Linked DNA regions of Homo sapiens. The protein of the gene in region 2 purifies or fractionates together with the protein of the main gene of each other region. This does not show direct contact. Each region holds a gene or a part of one and is shown on either strand. Other genes may lie near its edges. The genes, in order: ATP1A1, NIPSNAP2, HADHB and HADHA.

Region 1 (7,053 bases), on a different chromosome or scaffold from region 2:
CAACTGTACTTATTTACATGTTTTTAGGAATACCAAGTTACCTGGAAAGATGGTTTAGATTCTGACAAGTTTTCACTAAATCATACTTGGTTTGTATTTTAAAGTCTAAAACATGACCAGTCCTCAAACTGTAACTGAGATCTACATTCTGAAGATGTGACTATGGTCAGTTTGCTGGTCCAGTCACCTTAGCTAATCAGACTGACCACTGAGGGAGCCTAGACACCTTGAGGGAAACAAAAAACCAATAGAACTATAGCCCCTCCCACTCCTCCTCCAACCAAAGTCAGAATGCCCATAATTACCGCCAGGGCGTCGCCTGATGATGAGTTTTCTGACTTCGTCATATACGAAGATGAGAAGAGAGTAGGGGAAGGCACAGAACCACCAGGTAGGTCTGGAAATAGAGTAAGGTACCAATTTATATGCACACGAACACAGTTCAAATAAAGAAAGAGAAATTGCACATCACCAGTGACAATGAAATAATCAGCCTGAAAGGAGAAGCCAAGTACAGTCACAGTTAACTACTGAGTCATTAACAGAACAAATAAAAATGTCTTAAAACAGATTGCTACTCCATGTGCCCAGGGCCTAGAGACGCAGAGGAAATCAGTCTGCAGACTTTGTAATGGAATCCCTACTCATCTTCAGTTTGGATTTCATAAGACTTGGTTTATAGGATGAGCAGAGTACTTTTCTGTTAACCATCCCAGAGCAACTGAACATTTTCTTTCTTTCATTTCTAAAGTGTTTAAGAAGCTTTTTAAGACCATCTGCCTAATATCCCAGCATTTTGAAGATAAAGACCTGCCAGTGTGGGTCAAAACCAGTTTATGCATTCCCCAAATTTGATCTCTGACAACAGCATTTGGGATATCAGCTCTGTGTTCTGAGGCCTGGTCCTGGGGACTGAAAAAAGCTGAGCCCGAAGGCTTCCAAGGGGCCTGGAGGCTGAGCCACACAGTCTCTAGCCTGCTGACAGGCTCCAGGCAGCCTCCGTGATCACCAGCTCCCTGCTATGGTGTGAGAAAGGCTGTCCCTGGGCAGGACTCCGGTGGTCTCCTCTTCTTCCTGTGTGTCTGACAAGGCAGCTAAGAGAGATGATCTCATTTGACTCAGTCACCGAATAACTGAACCACCTTCCAAAATTGGGCAGAACCTGTCAGAACAATCTCTTTGGTGGTGGCAAAAAAACCAGGGAAGGACCCAGAAGATGGAAATGCCCCCTTTTCAGTGTAATTTTCCACCAGCCTTTTTGGAAAGCTCTGTGACCTCTCCAAGCCCCATCTTGATACATAATGGCCCAAGCTGACAGAATTCAATTTGGAGATGGCTGGCCCCTGCTGTACACCAGCTTTGTGTAGGGAGCTGGGGATGCACAGAGAAGAAAGACACTGTGGCCCATGCCTTCTAGATTAAAACCTAGCAGGGAGGTGAAATGACAAGCAACAAGTAATGCCAGAGAAGAGGTGCAAGTGCACAGGCCCTGGAGGGACAAGCTCCAAGGAAACCGGCCCTGAAGGGACTATCAGGATTGGCAGGGTAAGAGGGAACAGAAGGAGGGATGTGGGGAGGAAGGATCTTACCAAACACAAAGGCAGAGGAAGAAAGCCGAATTCACCTAACATGAGCTTGGATGGGTAAGGGGTACAAGAGAAAGCTATAAAGACAGGTTGGGACAATGAGACTGACTCTGGATGCCAGTCTCATCTTGCACCACAGACGATGTCTGCACATAACCCACAGGAAGTGAATGAGGCTGATGGGTTTTGGTTACTTTAGGGATAAGATGAGCTGAAGGAAGTGCTGGCAACAGGGGATTGAGAGATGGTCCAGACGGGTCTGAGCAAGGATGAGGACAGCAGGAATTCAAAGGAGACTAATGCTTTAAATCAAAAGCTTCAAAGGAACTTGTAAATGGGTCCCACAATCTGTGGCTTTGCACGTTTTAATCAAGTTGCAGTTGCTTAACCTCAACCAGGTATCACCAAACATACTCAATGTTGCAAAAAACTAACGGAGTTTGTGATAAACCCTCTTTGAAAATTCAAGTTTATCTGAAATGCAGAGTCATTCACTGTGTTTAAGGCCAAAGACTAGCAGTATGCTTCCTTTGATCAACTCTACCCATGACTGATTATAAAGTAAAAGGGACCTCAGATCTGTTTCTCCAACCTTCTTTCTTTGAGAGCAGAGTATTCAGAGTCTCAGAAAGGTGGATGACTTGTAATGGGACAGTGACTAAGCAAGCAAATCAAGATTTGAGCCTGGGCGCCTACGCTCCAGCATACCCCCAGTTGGCCTCTAAAGACAACTGGACTACAGCTGTGGCAGACCTGAGTGCTCAATGCAGTTCGCTGTTGAGCAGTTCCATGGAGCTAGAGCCTGTGTGGCTTTATCTTATCTTGGGCCAAATCCTAAACACTAGCTGCTATCATGGAAGCCTCAGGATTTGTTAGTCTGATTTACTGACATGTCAAGCTTTCACAGTTTTCCAACCCATAGGAATTTTTGTACATACCACTCAAAATTCTGAAAATAACAACTATTACCACAAGTAATGGGGGGAAAAGCCACACATACTATTTCATACTTTTTGGAGCTACCAGAGGATCAACTTACTTGAGGGGATACATCCTAAGAGCAACACCCATTCCAGGGCAGTAGGAAAGGAAAGCAGCCAGGGCTGTCTCTTCAAAGAGGCCAAATATCAAGATCTTGTTCCTAAAATCAAAGTAGGGGAGAAAAAACTTAAAAGGTGCAAATAAAGGTTTATCTTCTAATGCTATGCATTAAAATGGCAGATCAACATCTTTATGTATTAGCTGTACTTGAAAACTTGGAGGTCAGATGAAAAAACTAGAAAGCTACATTTCTTGCTTCCTAAATTTGCTCTATAAACTAGAGATTCCAGAAACCTGGCTATATGTGTCATATGTTTAGTTTTTGGCAAAGGGTTTACAAATCACCAGTCCCCTTCTTTGAGCCAAGGCCTTGACATGTCCTTCATTACTTACTTCATCCCCTGCTGGAAGACCGAATTCCTCCTGGTCTTACAGATGACCAAGTCGGCCCACTGCACCACCACGATACTGACGAAGAAGGCTGTGTGGCAGGTGAACTCCACGATTTTCCTCTGCTCATAGGTCTGAAATGCAGAAGACAGAAGATGAGCTCTGGCTCTTCACCTGCATGGCTGGTGGCAGTGTGGCCTCAGTCTTCTGGGGCTTGAGGAGCTCTGACACTGGTCAGGTCAGAGGTGCCCACTCACCCACTGCTGCCCGTAGCTGTCTTCCACATCGTTGATCCAGCGGTCATCCCAGTCCACTCGGAGGCCCAACAGGTGAATTGGGAGGAAGCCGTTCTCAGCCAGAATCACAAAGTAAGTAAAGAAGCCTCCCAGGGCCTGGATCATTCCTAAGTTGGGAAAACAACCCAATTACTAGAACCTCACACACAAGGGTACCTGTATAGCCTTCAGCTGATTACTGCAGCAGGCCTGGGAGAGCACATATGGAGGAGTGTTTCCCCCTGGTTGATAAAAGCACAGGAAAGAATTGCCTGGTCACTCACAGGCTATGAGGGATGGGATGGAGGACCCCAGGCATACACTCCAATCTCAGGGCCCTCTGCTTTTTGAGTCACTTTTTGGAGCCTACACAAAGACACATGTGCCTTGCTCTCAAAATGCCCACCTGTTACTTGACCAGCTGCTTCTAAGGGTATGACCTTTAGGGGAAATCCACTTCCCTACTTTTTAATCTCTGACAAATGATAACTTCTTTTCCATCTTTCAAAATTCCTACATGCTGCCATTTTTCTAGCCACTGTGGCACTTTCTGACTCTCCTCCCCACCTTCAGGACCCTCCTCCCCCTGGCATCCAATTTAACCACGCTGCTCCAAGTTCCTCAGGGCAGGGTTTCATCCTAAACCACCAGAGACCTAGTCTTCCTTCCTCTCAAAAGCAGGCCTCCTTGGAGAAGGTCAGGATGGGCCACCAGCCAATTACTTTGTTGCCAACAACTGTCTAATGAATCTTTGCCATAATTTCCACAATATTCTATCTAATCTGTTCTTCTTTATCCAAGCGTTCACAGTTATGTGACCCATTAATCCAGGAGAATAAGACATCCATGGTGGCTTTGCCAGGTTCTCTTGAAGGAACCCTAGGCAGAGGATTTAAAAACAAATGGCATGCTGATTGCCCACCACCTGGATCACCTGTTAGCTAGTCATGCTGCACTGTGGGGGCAGAAGTCCAGTGTGAGGTGGATGGAGGATCACCCTTTGGTGGTGACCTACCAGCCAAACTCTCAAACACATATACTTTCTCCAATGCCTAACTCCATCCAAGTGAGTGACAGATAAGTGTGTATCTCCAGGGAAAGCAGCCTGTGCGTCAGTACACACAATTCCTTAGAACCATGCCTCCTGTTCCGCAAGGCTCAGTGAGGAAGGACATCCTCATTTCTCAGGCAGAGTTGAGCCCAGTTCCAAGGTGCTCAGTATAGAAAACCAGTTTCCACAAAAGGTAACTGGGCAAACAGCAACAGATGTATTCTCACATGGAAGAGAGTTCAGAGAAACTCCACAGGCTCACTCCGTTAGGGCTCATCCTAGACCTGAAAGTCGCCTGGATTTGCAGTCTCTGAAATCAACCTCAACCTGAGGTGGACACCATCACCTCAGATGCCTTAGATGTGCCAGCTTCCCACTCCAGGCTGCAGCTTACCAATCTGCCCATAGGCCATGCTGATCAGCCGCTCATTCACAAGTTTGTCTGTTTTGGGATTTCTGGGCTGTCTCTTCATGATGTCACTCTCAGCCTGCTCATAAGCCAGGGAGATGGCAGGAACCTGGGAAGGGGTGGGGAGAAGGAATTTAGTTACTAAAAATAAGGAAGCTAATATTGTGAACCTTTTGTTATAAAATTCTTGCCCTCCCATTTAAAAATCTTTTAGGTGAAGTATACAAAAATAAAGATTCCCATCTGATAAACAAATGTTAACTGCTGCCTTGAAGAGTGGTAATACTGATTCTGTGAAGCCGGGATTGGGACACACACTGGATACTGGTCCTGAGAATTTCTTTTCCCAACGCCAGCCTCATGGATGCTGGGAGCATAGTGCCAGTGAATGAAGACACAGCTCACACCTCACTACTATCGATCTGTGACTGTTGTGACACTCACCATGTCAGTGCCCAAGTCAATGCAGAGGATGGTGACAGTCCCCAGTGGTAGTGGAATGTTTGCAATAATAAATATCAGGAACGGGGTGATCTCGGGAATGTTACTGGTTAAGGTATAAGCAATGGATTTCTTCAAGTTATCAAAGATCAGACGACCTATGAAAACCAAGATTTTTTACTGTTAGCTTATGAGACAAGCACACTGGAAACTGAACATATCCAAGAAGTATACAGAAATGGATGCTAATGGGCAGTATCTGAATAAGATCTTGGTGTACACCTTAAATAGCTCTCACCTTCCTCTACTCCAGTCACAATTGAGGCAAAGTTGTCATCCAGAAGAATCATGTCAGCAGCTTGCTTGGACACATCTGAGCCAGCAATCCCCATAGCAACCCCAATGTCTGCTTTCTTCAAAGCTGGAGAGTCATTCACACCGTCACCAGTCACAGCCACGATAGCACCCTACCCCAGAAAAGGGAAAACGGGTTAATACCAATCACTTTTCCTAGCGATGGAAATAGTGCGATGCATGCCCCCACTGAGCACTCATTACAGACACTGCTCCTTTCCTATTGAGACTATTTATGAAGCCTGAGAACCGTCACAGGCAAGTATTCACACAGGCCCTACACCAAATAACAGAACTGAGAAGTGACAACAAACATAGCCCCCAGCATTAACAAGAGCTACTCAAAGTAATGACTCTGGTGGGTGGCACTCCAGAAAATGCCATTCCTGTATGCACGCCCTGTAGTCTGACCACTCACATCTCTATTGCAAATACTAGGACCCCATATCAGATGACTCCACGGAGCGGTCAGGCTCTGGGACACAGTGGACACCTGGACTTTAAAGTGCTTCTGTCACTGCTAAACCATTAACAAGTCACCCTCTCTATGCCTATGAGCTTCCTACTGGCCTATTTATACTGAGTCTAATACAGCGAGGTATGCATCCATCCATCACCGTTGCTCTGTTTCCACTGGAACTCCAATCCCTAAAGCCAATAGTGCCCAAAGCAGCCTGATCCTTGTGCTGGCTGACCTGTCTTTGGCAGCCTTCCACAATGATGAGCTTCTGCTGAGGGGAGGTCCTGGCAAACACTATCTCAGTGTGGTACTTCAAAATGTCATCCAGCTGCTCGGAGGTCATGTCCTTTAGATCACTGCCGTGTACTACGCAGGCCTTGGCATCCCTAGAATTAGGACAAAAAAAAAAAAAAAGTCACGCATCACATCACCAGCATGTGTCCATCACCTCAAGAGGGGATATTCTTATGCAGATCACTTTGTAAACAAAACAAAGAAGGAATTTTCCCCAGCACATAAAAGCTATTAAGTGTTCAGTACTTTACAGGTTACAGAGCATTTTCATATATTTTATCTCATTTGAGGCTCATGATGATCTCTAAGGCAGGCCTGTCTGTATTCTTCCTTTCCCTATCTTTATTAGACATGCTGAAATATAACCAAGTTTTAGCTGGGTGTGTGGCTCATGCCTGTAATCCCAGCACTTTGGGAGGCTGAGGTGAGTGGATCACTTGAGGTCAGGAGTTCGAGACCAGCTTGCCAAAATGGTGGTCTAAAAATTCAAAAATTAGCCGGGCATGGTGGTTGGGGCCTGTAATCCCAGCTACTTGGGAGGCTGAGGCAGGAGAATCACTTGAACTCAGGAGGTGGAGGTTGCAGTGAGCCAAGATCATGACACTGCACTCCAACCGGGATGACAGAGCGAGACTCCATCAAAGAAAAAAAGAAATATAACCAAGTTTTAGAAAGTGGCAGAGCTGATACAAGACCAAACCCTCCTCTAACCGTAACATAGGGTGAAAGGGCCCTAAACCTTAAAACAAAAC
Region 2 (6,917 bases):
TGAGGTGGGAAGATCCCTTAAGTCCGGAAGGTCAAGGCTGCAGTGAGCCGTGGTCATGCCATTAAACTCCAGCCTGGGCAACAGGGCAAGACTATCTCCAAGGAAAAAAAAAAATTCTTTAGTCATCCCCTTCACTAACAGGTTCGAGCCCACACTCTTCGTAGGAATCCAGACGAGTATTGCTGAGGGTTGAGCTAGGGCAGTGAAGATGGAGAGGGTGGATTCAAGACATACTAGAGGCAGAACTGACAGATTTGGTAAATGATAGATGGCGGGAAAAAGAGGGATGGGCTTGGGGAAGACCATCTGGTGTCTGGCCTGGGCCACCACATGGAAAATGTTTCATGACTGGAGAAGAACAACCAAAGAAAAGCAGGCTTCACAGAAGGAAGAGGAGTTAAATCCTGGGTACAGCAGTGTTTTAAGCACCTGTGAGACACTTATGCAATGTCCAGGAAGCGGCTGGGAATTCCAAGCTTGCTGCTGAGCAGCACTAAGTGAAATACGCTGGCTAATGTACAGGCAGGGATGAGGCTCCCGGGAGGACGCCCTTCTCCCTTGCTGAAACTGATTCAGCAAATCCTGTTTTCTTCTGTCATTTTACCTAACACTTTGGCAGCGGATGGCACTCCCTCCCTCCTCCTGGCCACTGCCACATAACAATGAGCTTGCCAGCTCCCCCTCCTACATTCAGCCTATATACGCTGCACATCCCAGGACTTGCTTTGCAGCCCCTTCTCTCTCCACACTCTCGCCTCAAGCAATCTCACACATTCCTATATTTTTTTGTTTGTTTTATTTTGGAGACAGGGTCTGGCTCTGTCACCTAGGCTGGAACGCAGTGGCATGATCTCGGCTCACTGCAACCTCCACCTCCCAGGTTCAAGCCATACTCCCACCTCAGCCTACCAAGTAGCTGGGACTACAGGCGTGTGCCACCATGCCGGGCTAATTTTTGTATTTTTTGTAGAGATGTGTTTTGTCATGTTGCCTGGGATGGTCTCGAACTCCTGAGCTCAAGCGATCAGCCCAGCTCGGCCTCCCAAAGTGCTGGGATTACAGCCTGAGCCACTGCACCCGGCTTCCTATGGTTTAAAAAAAGTTTCATTATACAAATTTTTATTTATGTACTTATTTATTATTAGGGACAGAGTTCCACTATGTTGCCCAGGCTGGTCTCAAACTCCTGGGCTCAAGCAATCCTCCTGCCGCAACCTTCCAAAGTGCAGGGATTACAAGTGTGAGTCACTGCGTCCAGGCTTTATTATGAAAAACGTAAATCAAATACGAAACAGTATAATGAAATCCATGTGTCTATTAACATTTAGCATTCCTATATACTGACAACTCCTAAATGTTACCTGTAGCCCAGACACCTCCTTTGAGGAGTCATACTGCCAACTGTCTGTTTGCGTTTCCACTTGAATAGCACACAGCCTTCACAAACTTTACCAGGTCCTAAACTGCTCTGAATTCTTCTTCCCCAGCCCTCCTGAATTACTGGTAAGCTCCGGATGGCCTTGGACGCCTTATTCACTGATGTCTCTCAACAGTCAACAGTGCCTGGCACGTGGTAGGCACTCACATTTTGGCAGAACAGCTCTCTGCAAACTCTCAACTCTCAGTGCCAGGGTCCACTCAGCTGGCCACTACCCTTAATTCTGCCCCCTCTCCCAAGTCAGACTCATCTTTTTAAAAAGATCAGGCCGCGCCTGGTGATTCACGACTGTAATCCCTGCACTTTGGGAGGCCGCGGCAGGTGGATCACCTGAGGTCAGGAGTTCGAGATCAGCCTGACCAACATGGTGAAACCCCGTCTCTACTAAAAATACAAAAATTAGCCGGGTGTGGTGGTGCATGCCTGTAATCCCAGCTACTTGGGAGGATGAGGCAGGAGAATTACTTGAACCCGGGAGGCGGAGGTTGCAGTGAGACAAGATCGTGCCGTTGCACTTCAGCCGGGGCAACGAGAGCAAAACTCCGTCTCAAAAATATAAATAAATAAACAACAACAATAATAATAATAATAAACCATGTTACTGAAACCTCCCTGGCCCATGGCGAGTTTAACACACAGTTCCTTAGGTAATTTAAACTACCCAAAGCAATGAATACGAGAAAGCAACTCTGGGTAAGTCAGGATAGGCTTTGCTGTTTGAATGTGGAAAACAGCACATGCAAATATCAAGGTGATGAATTTGGACAACCAAACGTCCAATCCACTGAAGTTAGAAAAAAAAAAAAGTTTAAACAAGAGCCCCACGCCTGAACTTAGTGCTGATAACTCTAAGTACTTTTAGATCCACGGCCGGCTTTAAATTTCAACTCCAAGACGTTAAGTGATTTGACCTCCTCCAAGCTCTAACTTCCCCTACGCTCCGCGGAGAGCTGGCCCGGGACAATGCTTTACTCTTTTATTCCCTACTCCCGGCACCTCAGAGACCAGGGTCACCAACGTCCTCGGCAGACGCAGCCACTCAGGCTTGGAACAGCCTCCGGCGAGGACCCAGCAGACGGCGTCCGGGGCCTGCGGCCTCAGGCGCGCGCTGTCCCTGTCCCTGGCCACGGGTCGCGCCGGTCAGGGCCCTGCAGGCCGGGCCAGCGCCGCGGGGAGGATGTGGCCTCCGGGCCAAGCCTCGGGGGCCTTCCCGGGCGAGGGTGGAGCCGCAGAGCGGCCCGTCCCCTCCGTGACCTTGAGCCCGAGGACGCCCCGACCCCGCCCCAGCTCCGGCCCCACCCCAGCTCCGGCCCCACTGCCCCGAGGCCGGGCAGCCACCCGCGCTGGGGACAGGGCCGGGGCGGAGACCGGCGCCGGGAAACCCGCGCCCTCCGCCTCGCGGCGGCCCCTCCCCGGCACCTCCCGGGAAGGGCGGCGCTGCTCACCGGAGCCTGGGCAGGAGGCTGCAGGGGGCCGCCCGCTGCAGGAGGCCGCCGGCCCAGGCCGCTCCGCGGGCGCGCAGCACTCGCGCCGCCATCTTGCTCGGCGCCTCGGCTCCCACCGCCCGGGCGCCGCCGCTGACGCCGCCGCCGCGCGACCCCTCCCCCGGCCGGGCCCCAACGCGGCCACTGCAGTGCGGGGCGCGGCCGCCAGGGGGAGCAGGGCGCGCGGCCGCGGGGGTCGGCGGGGCGTCCAGGCGCCAAGGCCCGGCCGCTGCGGGAAAGCGCGAAGCCCAAGCGCAGTCAGTGCAAGCCGATCACTTCAGCGGGAGGAGCTCGGTGCCCAGAAGCGCGGGTGCAGAAGGGACAAGGGCATAACTTCAATGATCAGGGAAAACTCCAAAAGGAAAGAGTAACACTGTGCCTAGGGGAATCCAGGGCCTGGGGCGGGGCAGTGGCAGTGGGTTTACCCCCACCCCACCCCGCCAATGTCTTTTAAATTTTGTAGTATATGAATATATTGTCATTTCAAAAAGCCCCACAACGCTTTAACAAGTGCATTCTGGGGCCGGACGCAATAGCTCACGCCTGTCATCCCAGCACTTTGGGAGGCTGAGGCCGGAGATCTCTTGAGGCCAGGAGTTCGAGACCAACCTGGGCAACATAGCGAGCCCTCACTGTGCAAAAACATTTTTAAATTAGCCGGGCATGGAGGAGCACGTCTGTGATGCCAGCTACACTGGAGACTGAGGCAGAAGGATCGCTTGAGTTCAGGAGGTGGAGGCTGTAGTGAACTATGATCGTGCCACTGCACTCCAGCCTGGGCAAACACACGACGTCCTGTAGCGAAAGAAAGAAAGAGAGAAAGAGAGAGAAAGAAAGGGAGGGAAAGGAAGGAAGGAAGGAGAAAGAAAGGAGGAAGGAAGGGAGGCAGGAGAAAGAAAGGAGGGAAGGAAGGAGAAAGAAAGGAAGGGAGGGAGGCAGGAGAAAGAAAGAAAGAGAGAAAGGAAAAGAAAAGAAAGCAAGTGAGGAAAAAATTAAAAAACACCATACACACACAAAAAAAATTAAGGAGAAAGGACTGGGAAGGTTCTCTTGAGGTCTTGGGACTGCATCGTTCCCATTCATTTCAGCACCGGTGGGCACTGGCCATGGGGAGTCCTTGGTACCTTACCCTCAAGGCCGTCTGGGTCTAGTGGGGACAGAATGTACAATGATGATTGGACCGAGTGTGTTAAGTGTCAAAATGGACAGGTTCATGAGACACGAAAGAGGCACGGAAAGAGAGCATGTAACCGGGGGTGGCTGTGAATTAGAGGATAGATGGGGAGAAAGTTCTCCAAGGAGCTGGCAGGACATATCAGTCCCAGGGGAAGAAGGGAGGGCATCCCTGTCTTGAGGAAATAACTTAAGCAAAGGCGTGGATCTGGGTGGCTGGCGCTATAGAGGGAAAAATGTGTCCTCCAGGAAGATTTTTTAAAAAGCCACAAATGAGCCAGGCACGGTGGCTCACGTCTGTAATCCCAGCACTTCGGGTGGCCGAGGCGGGCGGATCACCTGAGGTCAGGAGTCCGAGACCAGCCTGGCCAATATGGTGAAATCCCATCTCTACAAAAATACAAAAATTAGGCAGGCATGTTGTCGGGTGCCTGTAATCCCAGCTACTCGAGAGGCTGAAGTGGGAGAATTGCTTGAACCTGGGAGGTGGAGGGTGCAGTGAGCCGAGATTGTGCCTCTGCACTCCAGCCTGGGCAACAGAGTGAGACTCCATCTCAAAAAAAAAAAGAAAAGAAAAAGAAAAAAGCCACAAATATAACCATGAAAACTGCAACCAAGGTGAGGGCAGGAGGAAGGAAGCTGGACCCTGGGGGTGGGGGAGAACCTGGGAGAAGTAGGGGCTCTGGCCACCAAAGGGAGCATTTCCAGGCCAGTGCGGGGCTGCAGAGGCAGAGAGGAAAGTGCCCTCAGGACTGGGTTGCTTGGAGGTCATAAGGTGGACAAAAACTGGGAGGTTCCCTGAAGCTGGTAATCTTGGGGGCCAAGGGAGCATCAGGGCTCAAGGGGTGCAGTTTTCTGACTGGGGTAGAATTTGAACACGTTAATATGGCAAGGAGCCACCAGGGAGGACAGAGGTGGACCCTGTGGATGGAGGAGGGCTTTGCCCCAGAGCAGGGAAAGGCACCTGTCCCTTGGAGGCCAGTGGGATGGAGGCCAAGGGACACAAGGATAGGAGGCCAGAGGCTGTGTGGCTGAGGACCTCCTGGCCTCAACTAGTGTATGCTTAGTAAAGCTGTGGAGAACCCTGTAAGAAGTACTTTTTAAGTGGTCCATTTTCAGAAAACAGACAAGTCTGGGCAGTTCCCTTGTGGATGTGACAAGATGCACGGGTACAGACATCTGGGAAGAGTGATAAAACTCACAGAAGTCAGAGGGGAGGGAGAAAAGTGGCAGGGGTGTCTAATCCATAAAAGGAAAGAAAGCTTAGCCATTGGGAAATCGAAACTTCAAGTAGGGAAGAGGACAAGATGTAACCTAATAAGGGGATAATGGAACTTAGGTGATGTCCAGGAAGACTGCAACCCCATATTACTCAGCCTGTGAGGAACTGGGGAGGGACCTGTGCTCTAGGGGATAAATTGTTGAAACTGCACTGGGTGTGCCTGCCCATCACACATCCGATCTTGCAAAACCATTATTAAAAAGTCTTACTTTTGTCCGGGTGCGGTGGCTCATGCCTATAATCCCAGCATTTTGGGGGGCTGAGGCTGGTGGATCACCTGAGGTCAGGAGTTCAAGACCAGCCTGGCCAACATGGTGAAACCCCATCTCTACTAAAAATACAAAAATTAGCCGGGTGTGGTGGCGCATGCCTGTAATCCTAGCTACTCGGGAGGCTGAGGCAGGAAAATCACTTGAACCTGGGAGATGGAGATTCACCTGGGAGGTGATCTCAGCTCAGCAATGAGCTGAGATCGCACTGCTGCACTCCAGCCTCAGTGACAGATCAAGACAGACTCTCAAAAAAAAAAAAAAGTCTCACTTTCACTGTTCTTCATGCCTCTAAGTCCATTCTTTGGGTTTGAATGGGTGAGTGTGTTTCTCACACTCCAAAGAGAGGCAGAAGTGAGCTCTCTCCAGGGTATCAAGGACTTGGCCCAGCCCTACAGAGCAGGAGGCCAGGCCTCTTTAAGGGTGGATGAGCTCCTGTGACTGTCACAAATGCCCCCAATTTCTCAGCTCTGTTTCATGAGACACCTGCTTTTAAATTTATTCTGAAATATAAACTGTAGCTAGACACTTCTTTGCTGACCTTGCTTTTGTGTTTAGTATTAGCCTGCTTAGCCTGCATTGCTTTTCTCCACTATCATTTTGTTGTGGAGTTCCATTCACTCAGGACTTTTTACTGGGGAAAAAGAGGGTACTCTGATTTCACAGCTGTGTGGCTTCAGATATTTGAAGCCATAGAATAAACATAGCAAGTCTTCCTGGAGCATAAGTTTTATACAAAGACTCTCAGGAAAAAGTATGTGTTAAAATATAAACAAGTATCATTTATATGTTAACATTTCAGTGGTACTTAGGTATAATTTATATTTTAATACTTCGATGGTACTTAAGTATCATTTCTATTTTAATACTTGAATGATACTTAGGTATCACTTATATTTTAATGCTTCAATGGTACTTAGGTATCATTCATATTTTAATACTTCAATGGTACTTATACATCATTTATATTTTATTTTATTTTTTATTTTTTTGAGATGGAGTCTCACTCTTGTCACCCAGACTGGAGTGCAGTGGCACGATCTTGGCTGACTGCAACCTCCGCCTCCCAGGTTCAAGCGATTCTCCTTGAGAATCTGCCTCAGTCTCCTGAGTAGCTGGGATTACATGTGTGCACCACCACGCCCCGGCTAACTTTTGTATTTTTAGTAGAAATGGGGTTTCACCGTGTTGGTCAGGCTGGTCTCCAACTCCTGATCTCATGATCCGCCTGCCTCAGCCTCCCAAAGTGCTGGGATTACAGGCGTGAGCCA
Region 3 (7,000 bases), on a different chromosome or scaffold from region 2:
TATTAACTAGTTCCTAATCACTTCTATTTCAGGAATGGGCCCTCTTGCACATGGGAGAAGAAGATATTCATCAATAGAGAAGCATTTCACAAATTGCAAATTTAAAGTTAACTTTTGGTTCCATAGCAGGTCTCAAGAGCATTTGTATGCCATTCACCTCCAGGACGGACAGCAAGAGGATAAATAAACTGACCAACGAGGTTTATGGAACCTCCATGACTCCAGCAGGTTCAAATCCCAGAAAACAGCCTCCCATTAACATCCTCAAGCCTAATCCTAAATAATGTAGTATCATTATTGATTGGACCTATAATTTTTTAATTTGAAGGCAACAGAGATGTTCATGTGCTCATAAAAAGGGGAGAATTAGCAAATTAGTTTTGGTTTTTATTCAGAGTTCACAAACTATAGAATCTGGAATCTAACATTTAAATCAGAAATATTTATTTTACAAATTACTGTACCTGGGGCAGCTCGTAGCTGGGAGGAACAGCTCAGAGGTCTTATGGCTGGAAGACAAAATAAACTGTTTACAAAAAGCAATACCATTCAGTATCTGTGCGAGATGTTTATAAATCCAAATCCAATCTCTAAAAATAAAAAAATAATAATAAACTTACAAAATCTGAGGGCCCATTTTGATGCAGTGGGAAGATTTTTAAAGGGGTAAGTCAAGATAGTCATTCTGGAATCTAAAAAGAGAAGAACAAAAGTATATCCTGGATTAGCTGAACAATTTGTAGTTTACATTGTAGTCTATGAACTCTGATAACCTCATCCATGGCTACTAGAAAACATTAAAACTTAATCTTATCAACTATTCTTCATCTAATAATATTATTATGATAGGAACACCAACATGGTTTTCACATTGCAGCAACCACTATTCTAAGCATTAACCATCTAATCTTCACAATGACCTACAAAGGAGGCATGATTATTACATCCTTTGTAAGAGATAAGGAAATTGAGGCATAGTAGGATTGAGTGACTTGCCAAAAGACCTACAACTAGTGAGTGGCAGAGCTGGAATTTTTATTTATTTATTTATTTATTTATTTATTTATTTATTTATTTATTTTTTTGAGATGGAGTTTTGCTCTTGTTGCCCAGGCTGGAGTACAGTGGTGCAATCTCGGTTCACTGCAATCTTTGCCTCCCAGGTTCAGTCGATTCTCCTGCCTCAGCCTCCCGAGTAGCTGGGATTACAGGCACGTGCCACCACACCCGGCTAATTTTTTGTATTTTTAGTAGACATGGGGTTTTGCCATGTTGGCCAGGCTGGTGTCGAACTCCTGACCTCAGGTGATCCATCGCCTTGGCCTCCCAAAGTGCTGGGATTACAGGCGTGAGCTACCGCACCAGGCCCAGAGCTGGAATTTGAACCTAGGAAGTCTACCTCTAGAGTGTGTGCTCCTCTCCTTTAGGGTCAAAGAAGCAGAGAGACTGCTAGGCGTGATAATAAAACCATTAGTATTAGTTTCACGATTCTGAAGGCTGTACTATGATTATGTAGAAGGCTTTGTGGAATGTTTGTATCTGAAGGGAATATACACTAAATAGGGATGGTGAAGCATCATGTCAGCAACTTAATCTCAACTGCTACTAAAAAAAGTTTGTAGTACTGCACTTGCAACTTTTTCAAAGTTTGATACTGTATTGTTTCAAAACAATAAAAAAGTAAAACATATAATAACCCTATATGTTAAAAAATATGTAAAATATATTAACAACTTTCCCCCACCCCTCCAAAAAAGACTAAATTTCTAACAATGAGTTCCTACAGATTACTAAGGAAAACACTAGCAGACAAATAGGCACAGAATATGAACAGACCACAGAAAAGGAAATACAAATGGTTCTTAAGTATATGAAAAGATGTTCAATTTCACTCATAAGAAGAATTCAAATTAAAACCACAGATATAATTGTCTCTCAAAGTAGCAAAGATTCAAAGGTTTGATATATACTCTGTGTAGGTAAGAGTATGTGCAAATAGATATTCTCATATACTGCTGCCAAGAGAACTGGCACAGTCCATGGGGAGGGCAATTTGGTAATTATCCATGAAAACTATAACTGAAACTAATGTTTGAACCAGCAATTCCACTTCCATGAACTGACTTCATGGATATTACTCACACACAGGACATAATCCATATTGTTACTGTAATAGTCAAAAATTAGAATAACCAAAAAATAGGAAAATGGGTAAGTAAACCATGCTACAACACCCCTGTGAAATACTATGCAGCTGTAAAAGGTAAGGAAATGATTATGCACCAATTCGGAACCATTTTAAGCTGTATCATTAAGTGAAGAAAGCAAGGTGCAAAATAGCTGTACAGCATGCTATCATTCATGTTAAAAGAGGAAAAATATTATGTACATTTCCTTGTATCAGTATAAAATCCCCCTGGAAGTATAATAAAGATGTTAAAAATAATTGTTGGCTGGAAGAAAGGGAACTGGGTAACTAGGGGTCAGGGGTGGAAGACTTGTCATCACACACCTTTTATAATTTCTTAATTTTGAAGCATGTTTTAACAACAACAACAAAAAATCAAAACCAAAAAAATCCCACAAGATTTACCAACAAAGACTTTGGTAGCCAGCCTCCAAGTTGCCCCCCAATAATCTCTACCTCTTGGTATTCACATCCTTGTCTAGCTGCCTCCCTCTCCATATCACAGAATGTATAAACCAAAAAGTATGTTACAAGTAATGGTATGCCACTTCTGAGATAGGCTATAAGAGATACTGCAGCATCTGTCGTGGTCTCTCTCTCAGCTCACCCACTATGAGAGAAGCCAGGTGGCATGTCCTGAGCAGCCTTATGAAGAGGCTCCTGTGGTGAGGAACTGATGCCTCTTGCCAACAGCCATGTGAGTGAGCTTGGAAGCGGAGCCTCTAGCGCAGGCAAGCTTTCAGCTGACTCCAGCCCTGCCAACATTCTGACAGCCACCTTATGGGAAACTCAGAGCAACCCAGCTAAAGTGCCCTTGATTCCTGACCTTCAGAAACTATGAGATGGTAAACATGTATTGTTTTAAACTGCTACATTTGGCGGTAATTGGCTACACAGAAATAGATAATACAAAAGCTTTAAGGTTTAACTTCTCTTGGGTCTTTAGAGACTAAAAGAAGGAGGTCCTATAGCTTCCGAAAAGAAAAAAACAAAACATGTTCCAAACATGTGGATTGGAAAGAGATGGAGAAGCCCAAGCTTTAGGATCACCAGCCTAGGGATATTCAAAGGACTCTGGCCAGAGAAACACAAAGAGGCCCATGAGAGAGGCACCACTCAGAAGCTACTTACAATGCCACAAGGGTCTGGGCTACAAGTTCCCTTACGTAAGGTTCATCTTGAAATAAAATTCATGAAAATTGTCAAGAAAATGTTGAAAAACAAAAGGGGGAACCTTGTTGCAACAGATAACAAAACTTTCTAGGCCAGGCACAGAGGCTCACACCTGTAATCCCAGCACTTTGGGAGGCCGAGGTGGGAGGATCACTTGAGCCCAGGAGTTTGAGACCAGCCTGGGCAACCTAGTGAGACCCTGTCTTTACAAAAAATACAAAAAACTAGCTGGGCATGGTGGCATGTGCCTGTAGTCGCAGCTACTCAAGAGGCTGAGGTGGGAGGAGCACCCGAGCCAGGAGTTCGAGGCTGCAGTGAGCCATGATCACGCTACTGTACTCAAGCCTGGGCAACAGAGTAAGATCCTGTCTCAAAAAAAAACAAACAAAACACTTTCTAGAAAGAACCAATAATTAAAACAGAGCAGCTTTAGCACAGGAATAAACGACACTGATCAACAAAACAGGATGTAGCAGTTCAGAAGCAGACCCATGTATGTAAGAATTTAGTGTATAATAAATATAACACTTGAGTTAGCTGAGAGAAAGAAATTATTCCATGAATTCACTGGGAAAATGGCTAAACATTTGGAAAAAATTTTAGGTTCGCAGCTCACAGCGAAAGCACAAATAAATGCCAGACAGATTAAATATTTAAATGTATATATTTTAAATATATATATTCTAACTATAAAAGTACTAGAGGAAAACATCGGAGAATATAATATATACATACACACACGTGTATGTATTTTTTAGAGACAGGGTCTCGCTCTGTTGCCCAAGCTGTAGTGCAGTGGTATGATCATAGGTCACTGCAATCTGGAACTCCTGGGCTCAAGGGATCCTCCTGCTTCAGCCTCCTGAGTAGCTTAGACTACAGGCACATGCCACCATGCCTGGCTAATTAAAAAAAAAAAAAAAAACTTTAGAGACAGGCTAGTCTCAAACTCCTAGCCTCAAGTAATCCTCCTACCTCGGCCTCCCAACATGCTGGGATTACAAGCATGAGCCACCATATCCAGCCTCAGAGAATATTTTTATCACTTAGATGGAGAAGGGATTTCAACATATGGCACAAAACCCAGAAGTACAACAGAAAATAATAACTAATAGATCTGATCATATAAACATTCAAAATATACACATAGTAAAATATACTAAAATCAAGTTAAAAGGCAAATAGATTCAGAGAAAATATTTGTAACATGTAAAACAGAAAAGGGTTGATACCCATAATCCATAAAGAACTTGTACAAATTATAAGAAAAATAAGGCCAGGCGCAGTGGCTCATGCCTATAATCCCAGCATTTTGGGACGCCCAGGCAGGTGGATCACCTGAGGTTGGGAGTTCAAGACCAGCCTGACCAACATAGAGAAAGCCCATCTCTAATAAAAATACAAAATTAGCCAGGCCTGGTGGCACATGCCTGTAAGCCAGCTACTTGGGAACTGAGGCAGGAAAATCGCTTGAACCCGGGAGGCGGAGGTTGCAGTGAGCCAAGATCATACTATTGCACTCCAGCCTGGGCGACAGAGCGAGACTCCATCTCCAAAAAAAGAAAGAAAAAGAAAAACAGAAACAATCTATCATGGAATCTGTAGTTTGTACTCTAATATCCATTCCACCCAAATGTAGCTGCTGTATGTGGCTTACATGGGATTGAATCCAGCCCAACTCCAGGGTTTAAACCAATCAGAATAATCTCATTCTCTCTGCCAAGATCATTGATTCAGGTACCAAGGCCTCAAACAACCATGCACGGCATTGCCTTGACCACTGGTATTGATTTGTGGATGGTTTCATCAGTTTAACACTCAAGTCTTCTGCCTATAATTCTGGAACACAAATCTTTCCTTCTGAGGCCTGGCATGGCTACAGCAATTTGCAAACATTAACAAAGCTAGGCTAAGATAGAGCTAACACCAAACAAGCAGAAGAGTACGGAGCTGAGAATTCTGGAAAAAGAAGAGTCCTGGCCGAATCCCATCTGAAACCCAACCTCTCATTGTGCTTTTCAGTTCTGTGAGCCAATAAATCTCCTTTATTTATTTATTTATTTTTTTGAGACGGAGTCTCACTCTGTCGCCCAGGCTGGAGTACAGCGGCGCGATCTTGGCTCACTGCAACCTCTGCCTCCTGGGTTCAAGCAATTCTCCTGCCTCAGCCTCCCGAGTAACTGGGACTACAGGCGCACACCACCATACCAGGCTAATTTTTTTTATTTTAGTAGAGACAGGATTTCACCGTGTTGATCAGGCTGGTCTCGAACTCCTGAGCCTCCCAAAGTGCTAGGATTACAGGCGTGAGCCACCACGCCCGGACTAATAAATCCCCTTTAAGAAGCCAATTTGATTTGAATTTTCTGTTATTTGCAACTGAAAGACTCCTTCCTGATACATGACCAAAAGCAAGAATGAGAAAACAAGCCATTCACAGAAGAAATTAAAATGCCAAATAAACAAAATGTATAATGTTCAACCTCACTAACAAAAAGTTGTGATTTTCTTTTTTTTTTTGAGACAAAGTCTCACTCTTGTCCCCCAGGTTGGAGTGCAATGGCGCGATCTCGGCTCACTGCAACCTCCACCTCCTGGGTTCAAGCGATTCTCCTGCCTCAGCCTCCCGAGTAGCTGAGACTCCAGGCACGTGCCACCACGCCTGTCTAATTTTTGTATTTTTAGCAGAGATGGGGTTTCACCATGTTGGCCAGGCTGGTCTTGAACTCCTGACCTCAGGTGATCCGCCCGCCTCTGCCTCCCAAAGTGCTGGGATTACAGGCATGAGCCACTGCGCCCAGCCTTTTTGTTGTTGTTGTTGTTGTTTTTTAAATCAAAGCAAGGTATCATTTTGTGGTTTTCAGATTGGCAAACATTGAAAATATGGTTAATATATAATTCTAGTAAGAATGCATCTAACTAAATAGGCACTTCCATACACTAGAAGACATGTAAAATGCTAAGGCCTTTTGGGATGACAATTTTGTAGTTATAGATCAGAATTTAAAATGTGAATTTTTGAGTCCAATAATGCCTTTTATTGGTCTCTAACCTATAGAAATATTCAAAATGTATGTATAGCATATATAGGTCTCTAGCGTAAAATACTCAAGGTGGGCCAGGGGTGGTGGCTTACGCCACTGAACTCCAGCCTAGGAGACAGAACGAGACTCCGTCTCAAAAAAAAAAAAAGAAATACTCAAGGTGTTCACTATAGCACTGTTTATATTTGTGGAAAACCGTAACTAATCTAAATGCACATCAGTAGGAAACAGTTAAGTAAGTTATAGTATAAACACACCATGGAATACTGTTTGGCAGTTTGGAAAAGAAAATGAAACAAAATGATGTACATGTATATATACTGACATGGAAAAATGTCCATAATATATATTAAATGAAAAAGCAAGCTACAGAACAATGTGTATTAGAAATTAGAATAATAGATTAGAATAACTGGAAAATAGGGAAATGGGTAAGTAAACCCTACTACAACAACCATTTTGTGACAGAAAGAGAGAAAGAGAAAAGAAAGTCCCTGAAGCTATGAGTCTAGACATGGAAGGATAAAGAAAGGCTTTTATTTAATATTCTTCTGTTCTCTTTAATTTTTTTAAAATAAGCATTTTACTTATGCAT
Region 4 (6,924 bases), on a different chromosome or scaffold from region 2:
TGTATAGCATATATAGGTCTCTAGCGTAAAATACTCAAGGTGGGCCAGGGGTGGTGGCTTACGCCACTGAACTCCAGCCTAGGAGACAGAACGAGACTCCGTCTCAAAAAAAAAAAAAGAAATACTCAAGGTGTTCACTATAGCACTGTTTATATTTGTGGAAAACCGTAACTAATCTAAATGCACATCAGTAGGAAACAGTTAAGTAAGTTATAGTATAAACACACCATGGAATACTGTTTGGCAGTTTGGAAAAGAAAATGAAACAAAATGATGTACATGTATATATACTGACATGGAAAAATGTCCATAATATATATTAAATGAAAAAGCAAGCTACAGAACAATGTGTATTAGAAATTAGAATAATAGATTAGAATAACTGGAAAATAGGGAAATGGGTAAGTAAACCCTACTACAACAACCATTTTGTGACAGAAAGAGAGAAAGAGAAAAGAAAGTCCCTGAAGCTATGAGTCTAGACATGGAAGGATAAAGAAAGGCTTTTATTTAATATTCTTCTGTTCTCTTTAATTTTTTTAAAATAAGCATTTTACTTATGCATAATTCTAGTTTTATTTAAAATCTATATATACTGTTGTTCCTCAGTATCCAAGGGGGATTGGTTCCAGAACCCCCCTCAGATACCAAACCTCAAGGATGCTCAAGTCCTTTACATAAAATGGCATAGTATTTATTTGCAAAGAACCTACACACATCCTCATGCATACTCTAAATCATCTCTAGACTACTTACAATACCGAATGCAATGTAAATCTATGTAAATAGTCGTTATGCTGTATCGTTTAGGGAATAATGATGAGAAAAAAAGTCTGTACATGTTCAGGACAAATGAAACCACTGTAGGCCTAACTACATTTTCACTCAGACATTGGTTGAATCTGAGGATGTAGAACTCACAGATACCAAGGGCCGACTGTACATCAATATCTTATATAAATATATACAAATATACAAATGCATTTTAAAAAGTCCAGAAAAATACACATCAAAATGTTAAAAGTAGTTATCTCCGGGTGGTGGAATTACAGATTTTCTTTAGACTTTTCTGTAGTTTCTGAATAAAAAATTACATGGAATATGTATTCCTTCAATAGTTAATAAAAAATAGAGATTTCAAAAGTAAGAGGGACTAAGCAAATTATCCTATAGCAGAGCTGACCTTTCTGTCATTTGCTAAACTTCAGAAAACAGAAATTTTGGTAAAAATATTCAAAGCATGGAAACTCCAGGGTAGGGTAGGGTAGGATCGAGTTGGTTAGGGTAAGCCTGAGTAAGGTGTGAACTATGGAAAGATACACGAAGCTGCAGGCACCTGGGAGCAAGGGAAAGGAAGAAGAGTCTAGGCAAGTAATGAAAACAAAAGCAAGATGGGGTGGCTCTAACAGCTCATTATTACAACTTTGAAACACAACGTAATGGTTAAGAGAACTAAAGCCAGACTATGTCCAAATCCTGATTCACCCTAGCTGTATGACTTTAAGCCAGTTACTTAACCACATAGGACGCGCACGCGCACACACACACACGCACGCACACCCACGTGCACACACCACTTAAAACAGTGCTTGATACACAGTTAGGGGTATACCTGTGTTTGCTATTACCAGTAGAGATGGTGATACAAATGTACTGTTTCCCTCTATATAAACCATTGGACTAAAGTGCTTAGGGATCAAAGAAACATTATAACATTTCTGCCCTGATGGAGCTTAGTTTTGTAGAGAAAGCACAGGGAGCAAAAAAATGGAGCCAAATGAGTGATCTAAATCAGGGATTGGCAAACTACAACACACGGGCCTCTAGCTAAAAATAGTTTTTCACATTTTTAAAGAGTTGTAAGGTCGGGCGTGGTGGCTCACACTTGTAATCCCAGCACTTTGGGGGGCAGAGGTGGGCGAATCACCTAAGGTCAGGAGTTCGGGACCAGGCTGGCTAACATGGTGAAACCCCGTCTCTACTAAAAATACAAAAAATTAGCCCGGCGTGGTGGTGTGCGCTTGTAATCCCAGCTACTCGGGAGCCTGAGGCAGGAGAATCACTTGAACCCGGGAGGAGGCTGCAGTGAGCCAAGATCGCGCCACTGCACTCCAGCCTGGACAACAAGAGCAAAACTGTCTCAAAAAAAAAAAAAAGTTGTAAACAAAACAAAACAAAAGAAACAATATATAACAGAGACCAAAGTGATCCTGCAAATCCTGAACTATTTACTGTCTGGACCTTTAACAACAACAACAAAATTTACCACTTCTGACCTAAATAATAAGTGTTACACGCAGTTAGGTGTTGAAGAAAGCATTACATGGGCAGGAGGCAGGCTCTGAACTGTAAAAACCTTGTAAGATTATCAAGAATCCTTTTTGCAATTTATTCAGAAGTGGTCAGGTCATCCAGTTTCTGCTTAAAGTGCTCACATGATGAGCACTCACTATGCAACTTGAGCTTTAAACAGAAACCTCTCTACTCTGTCTCTATACTCATTTCAGTCTTAACTTCGATGCCCCTTGTTTCCTGTCCTGCAGAGCTGTCAGTCTGGCGAGTAGTGAGACTCAGACTTATGTCTGAATGCTAGGTCTGTCACAGACTAGAAAATGTATATATTCTGAGCTTCCCAAACTTCATCTAGAAAATGCAAATGATAATAATTTGGGGAATGTGAGGACTAAACAAAAAGGTATGAAGGTGACCAGAGCACAGCAGGCTCTCAATGTGACTTCCTTTTGAAATCAATCACTTTATTCCAGGACTCCAGCCCATCATTCCAGCACAAAAACAGCTACCATGCAATGAAGAACTCTTCACTAGGAGTTAGTAGACTTAGGCTCCAGTCTTATTTCTACTACATATGGCCATGGGTAAAATCACTCTCTCTGATTCGTAGGCAGTTTCTTCACCGCTTAAGTGAGCTGAGGTGTGAACGACCAGATAGATAATCATCCAGATCGGAAAACCCCCGAGAGCGCAGGATTATCTGGATAACGGAGCCGGATGGAGGATTGTCTCCGTTCCTCCCACACTCAAGCCCCGAAAGGTCACCTGACCTAGTCTTATTCTTTACAGCAGAAATCGGGCAAACCCATGGCGCCGTCCACAATCTCTATAGCCGCCGACCTGGGTACAGGGGAAGCAGGCGAAACAACACACACTTCTACGCAGACCAGGGTTACATTAAGGCCGACGCCCACACACGCCCACACACACCCACACACACACACACACCCCCACACCCCCAGACTTCGTTAACTTGTGATGATAAATTAGGGCGCAGGTGACACTACTGTCCCGAACTTCAGCTGGAACGCTAGTCCAAGTCACTGTCCTAACTGCAGCTAGCACTGCCGACCTTGTCCGAGGAGTTTCCTTCCGCTCCCTCAACTCCCACTTTCCCAGGGAGGGGAGGGGGCCGGGGGCACCGGCGACAGTTGCGGGGAAGGAAGTGGAATCTCGCCTTTGGGAAAGCCCGGGCGGAGAGCTGAGGGCTCGCCGTCTCACCTTGGCTGACGTCCGCGAGGACTCCCTCTCGGAGCAAGGTTCAGGTCCAAGTACCAAGGCTCTGCGGGACCAAGGGGCGGGTCCTGCCCAGAAAGGGCCCCTCACCCCGCGGGCGGTCAGGGCCGTTCTTGAGGGCTGCCCTCCGGCCGCCTGACTGGAAAACCAGGCACTCCACCCCCTCCTCTCCGGGCCCCCGTCCTCCCCCGGAGAATACGACCTTTCGGCCATGTTAGCCAGGAGCGAGGGGCAGGGCTAAGGGGCCGGCGGCCACTCGGCATCTGGGTTTTAGTCAGGCAGTGCTCCAGGCGCCTGGCTGCCAGGCTACGGGAGAAAAGTCCTCCGCTCGGCCGCACCCGTTAGAGGCGCTCTCCACTGCTGTCCTCTTCAGCTCAAGATGGTGGCCTGCCGGGCGATTGGCATCCTCAGCCGCTTTTCTGCCTTCAGGATCCTCCGCTCCCGAGGTGAGGCCTGGCCGAGGGCATCCCAGACCTCCGGGCAGAACTCCTGCCGGGACTGGGGTGGCCCCGGAGCCGCGTCTCCCTTTCGCTGCCGCCTGCCCCAGCCCGGAGACGCAGCCCTCTGTGGGGATACTGCCCTGGGACCCGGTTTCCCGTGACCTTCTGAAGAGACTGTCACTTCCCCTCTCACGACTCCTGCGGCGATTTCAGGCTTCCTAACTCCCCAACTTTCTGAGTCTGGTGCCACTCGTTCTGTCACCTTTCCGCGGGTCTCTTGCGTCGCACTTCTGGGCTCACGCCCCTCATATTTTCTTGATCCGGAGTTCCAGGAGAATCGGGATCCATTCTGTCGCATCTTTGTGGCTCCACAGCACCTTGCCCCGCAACAAGAGCTGTCTTAAAAACAGCACCTTACCCCGCAACAAGCGCTGTCTTGTATGGGATTAATCAGCCTTGCAGATCACTGCCCCTCCCTGCTCCGTTCCCTCAAAACCATTTTTGTGCTTACTACCCCAATCAAGTAGGGAGCTCAACTCTTGCAGTTTCAGTAATGTCAGTGTGAACGTATAGTATTTTGAATTTCAGCGGGAAGTTCTGCAACTTACTGGAAGACACACTTTAAAAATACGCTAATACCTCTACCTTAAGCAATAAAATGTTAGATCGTTCTGAGAACGATTTGTAATCTGATGATTCCCAGTCAGCCTGTATTAGCTAGTGTTTTTCCTTTTCAAACTGGCAGTGAAAGGGTTAAAGTGGGTGGTTGTAGGAAACGTTGCATTTTCTTTCCATCCCAAATCTGTAAAGTCAAAAGTGGACAACGTTTTATTGCATGTTGTGCTTAATAAGTTACTTAACTAGAAATTTTAACTTTTAATTTAATTTGTAATATGAATTACCTCTCTTCCCTCTTCCGGAACCGCTGAAGTAGTATGCTTTTTTTAGACAAGTAGCTGAAATCCCTTACTGTAAGGGGATTTTTTTAATGATTGAATATTTTTCTGCTCCCTTTTTTCAACAGCTGTTTTTAGTCTCCACAAAACTGTAGCATGTATTTGCCAATTATAACATAAGCACATTATAGAACATTGAAATGCTGTAAGGATTGAGGAAAGAGATGAAAAAAAAACGAATCACCCATTGTCTTACTACTCATATGCTTACCTACGGTTAGCCTTCGGTTATGTTTCCTTACAGGTTTGGTGGTTTTTTTCCCCTATTTTCACAACACTTTTGAAAAGTAACGTGTAATTTTTATCTTACCCCTGCATTGGTTTGAAGGTATTTCTTATGGATCGGCAGCTGATGTCACTCGGAAGTGGTAGCCAGGGCACGTGGTTCTAGTCACTAGCTGTGTTACTTTGGACAAATGCCTTAAACTAAATGGGCTTTATTTTCCTCATCTGCAAAATGAATGATTGAGATGATGGATTTCCTTTGCATGAGAAGTAGCATGACAGAGCAATTAATAAACATTGTTTGGGCCGGGTGCGGTGGCTCACGCCTGTAATCCCAGCACTTTGGGAGGCCCAGGCGGGCGGATCACGAGGTCGGGAGATCGAGACCATCCTGGCTAACACGGTGAAACCCCGTCTCTACTAAAAATACAAGAAATTAGCCGGACGTGTTGGTGGGCGCCTGTAGTCCCAGCTACTCGGGAGGCTGAGGCAGGAGAATGGCGTGAGCCCGGGAGGCGGAGCTTGCAGTGAGCCGAGATCGCGCCACAGCACTCCAGCCTGGTCCTCCGTCTCAAAAACAAACAAACAAACAAAAAAAACATTGTTTGGAGTCTGACTTCTGGGTTTGGACCTGGCTCTGCCTTTTACCCTCTGATGACCTTGGGCAATTAATTTCTGTGTTTGTTTTCTCATTTGTAAAATGGGGAATAATACCACCTTGTGTGATGAAAAGGAGTTATTTTAGATATCAAGCAGTTTTTCATGGAGTAAGCACTCAGTAAATATTATTAACTCCAGCCTGGAAGAAATACGATTGTATATATCTGAGAGTTTTTAAAAGTAATTTGTACATCTTATGTGTGTAATAAAAAGCTACCAACCTAATTTTTCTGTTTTCTGTATAGAAATATATAGACACATAAATATATACTTTGCATTGTGTTTTCACCAGTAAGAAAGTATCATTCGTTGTAGTTACTGATCCCTTAATAGCAATTTATAAATTTTGAAAAAAAGTCTGGAAAGTGAATTTAAAATGACCTGCACCCTTATATTACTATTTAGACTCAATAGATCCTTCACAGTAAAAGTCTGTGCAAGGCTTTGCCAAACATTTAATGAGATTATGACCTTTGCTGGTGGATGATAAAATTCTCTTGAAAGGGGCCAGGCACGGTGGCTCATGCCTATAATCCCAGTATATTGGGAGGCCAAGGCGGGCAGATCACTTGAGGTCTAGCCTGGCCCACATGGTGAAACCCCATCTCTACCAAAAAATACCAGAATTGGCCAGGTGTGGTGGCACACGTCTGTAATCCCAACTACTCGGGAGGCTGAGGTGGGAGAATCGCTTGAACCCAGGAGGTGGAGGTTGCAGTGAGCCAAGATCACACCTGGAGGACAGAATGAGACCATATCTCAAAAAAAAAAAAATTATCTTGAAGGAGACTTGTAATTCTTGAAATTTTAAAGCATTCCTTCTCTACAAGTGCTATAATTCTGAATGTGAATATCAAATGAAAATCACTTCTTGACCAGAGTATGTTGTCTAATTCCCACTCCTATCCTAAATCTAAATTCCTAATTAGGTATTTAGTAGTAAATAGGTATTAGTAGTAAAATAATTTCACAGGAGATGAATTTAGAGGCAAATACCTTAATAGATGGTTTTTTTGTTTGTTTGTTTTTTCGGTTTTTTTTTTGGAGACGGAGTCTCACTGTGTCACCCAGCCTGGAGTGCAATGGTGCGCTCTTGGCTCACTGCAACCTCCGCC

The links.
Region 1: the proteins of NIPSNAP2 (region 2) and ATP1A1 purify together in Homo sapiens (affinity purification with mass spectrometry; 2 studies listed by BioGRID, with this or other methods). This does not show direct contact.
Region 3: the proteins of NIPSNAP2 (region 2) and HADHB purify together in Homo sapiens (affinity purification with mass spectrometry; 2 studies listed by BioGRID, with this or other methods). This does not show direct contact.
Region 4: the proteins of NIPSNAP2 (region 2) and HADHA purify together in Homo sapiens (affinity purification with mass spectrometry; 3 studies listed by BioGRID and IntAct, with this or other methods). This does not show direct contact.

The regions. Positions count from the first base shown.
Region 1 is NC_000001.11:116,397,228-116,404,280, reverse strand, and holds part of ATP1A1 (sodium/potassium-transporting ATPase subunit alpha-1), read right to left. Parts: intron 6,394-7,053; coding exon 6,243-6,393; intron 5,661-6,242; coding exon 5,492-5,660; intron 5,352-5,491; coding exon 5,197-5,351; exon of another isoform or gene 4,967-5,196; intron 4,862-4,966; coding exon 4,738-4,861; intron 3,421-4,737; coding exon 3,275-3,420; exon of another isoform or gene 3,152-3,274; coding exon 3,021-3,151; intron 2,728-3,020; coding exon 2,626-2,727; intron 398-2,625; coding exon 306-397; intron 1-305. UniProt on the Homo sapiens protein: This is the catalytic component of the active enzyme, which catalyzes the hydrolysis of ATP coupled with the exchange of sodium and potassium ions across the plasma membrane.
Region 2 is NC_000007.14:55,960,668-55,967,584, reverse strand, and holds the start of NIPSNAP2 (protein NipSnap homolog 2), read right to left. Parts: upstream 3,001-6,917; 5' UTR 2,976-3,000; coding exon 2,884-2,975; intron 1-2,883. UniProt on the Homo sapiens protein: Protein involved in mitophagy by facilitating recruitment of the autophagy machinery required for clearance of damaged mitochondria.
Region 3 is NC_000002.12:26,247,939-26,254,938, reverse strand, and holds part of HADHB (trifunctional enzyme subunit beta, mitochondrial isoform 1 precursor), read right to left. Parts: intron 693-7,000; 5' UTR 685-692; coding exon 621-684; intron 510-620; coding exon 465-509; intron 1-464. UniProt on the Homo sapiens protein: Mitochondrial trifunctional enzyme catalyzes the last three of the four reactions of the mitochondrial beta-oxidation pathway.
Region 4 is NC_000002.12:26,241,580-26,248,503, reverse strand, and holds the start of HADHA (trifunctional enzyme subunit alpha, mitochondrial precursor), read left to right. Parts: upstream 1-3,871; 5' UTR 3,872-3,907; coding exon 3,908-3,974; intron 3,975-6,924. UniProt on the Homo sapiens protein: Mitochondrial trifunctional enzyme catalyzes the last three of the four reactions of the mitochondrial beta-oxidation pathway.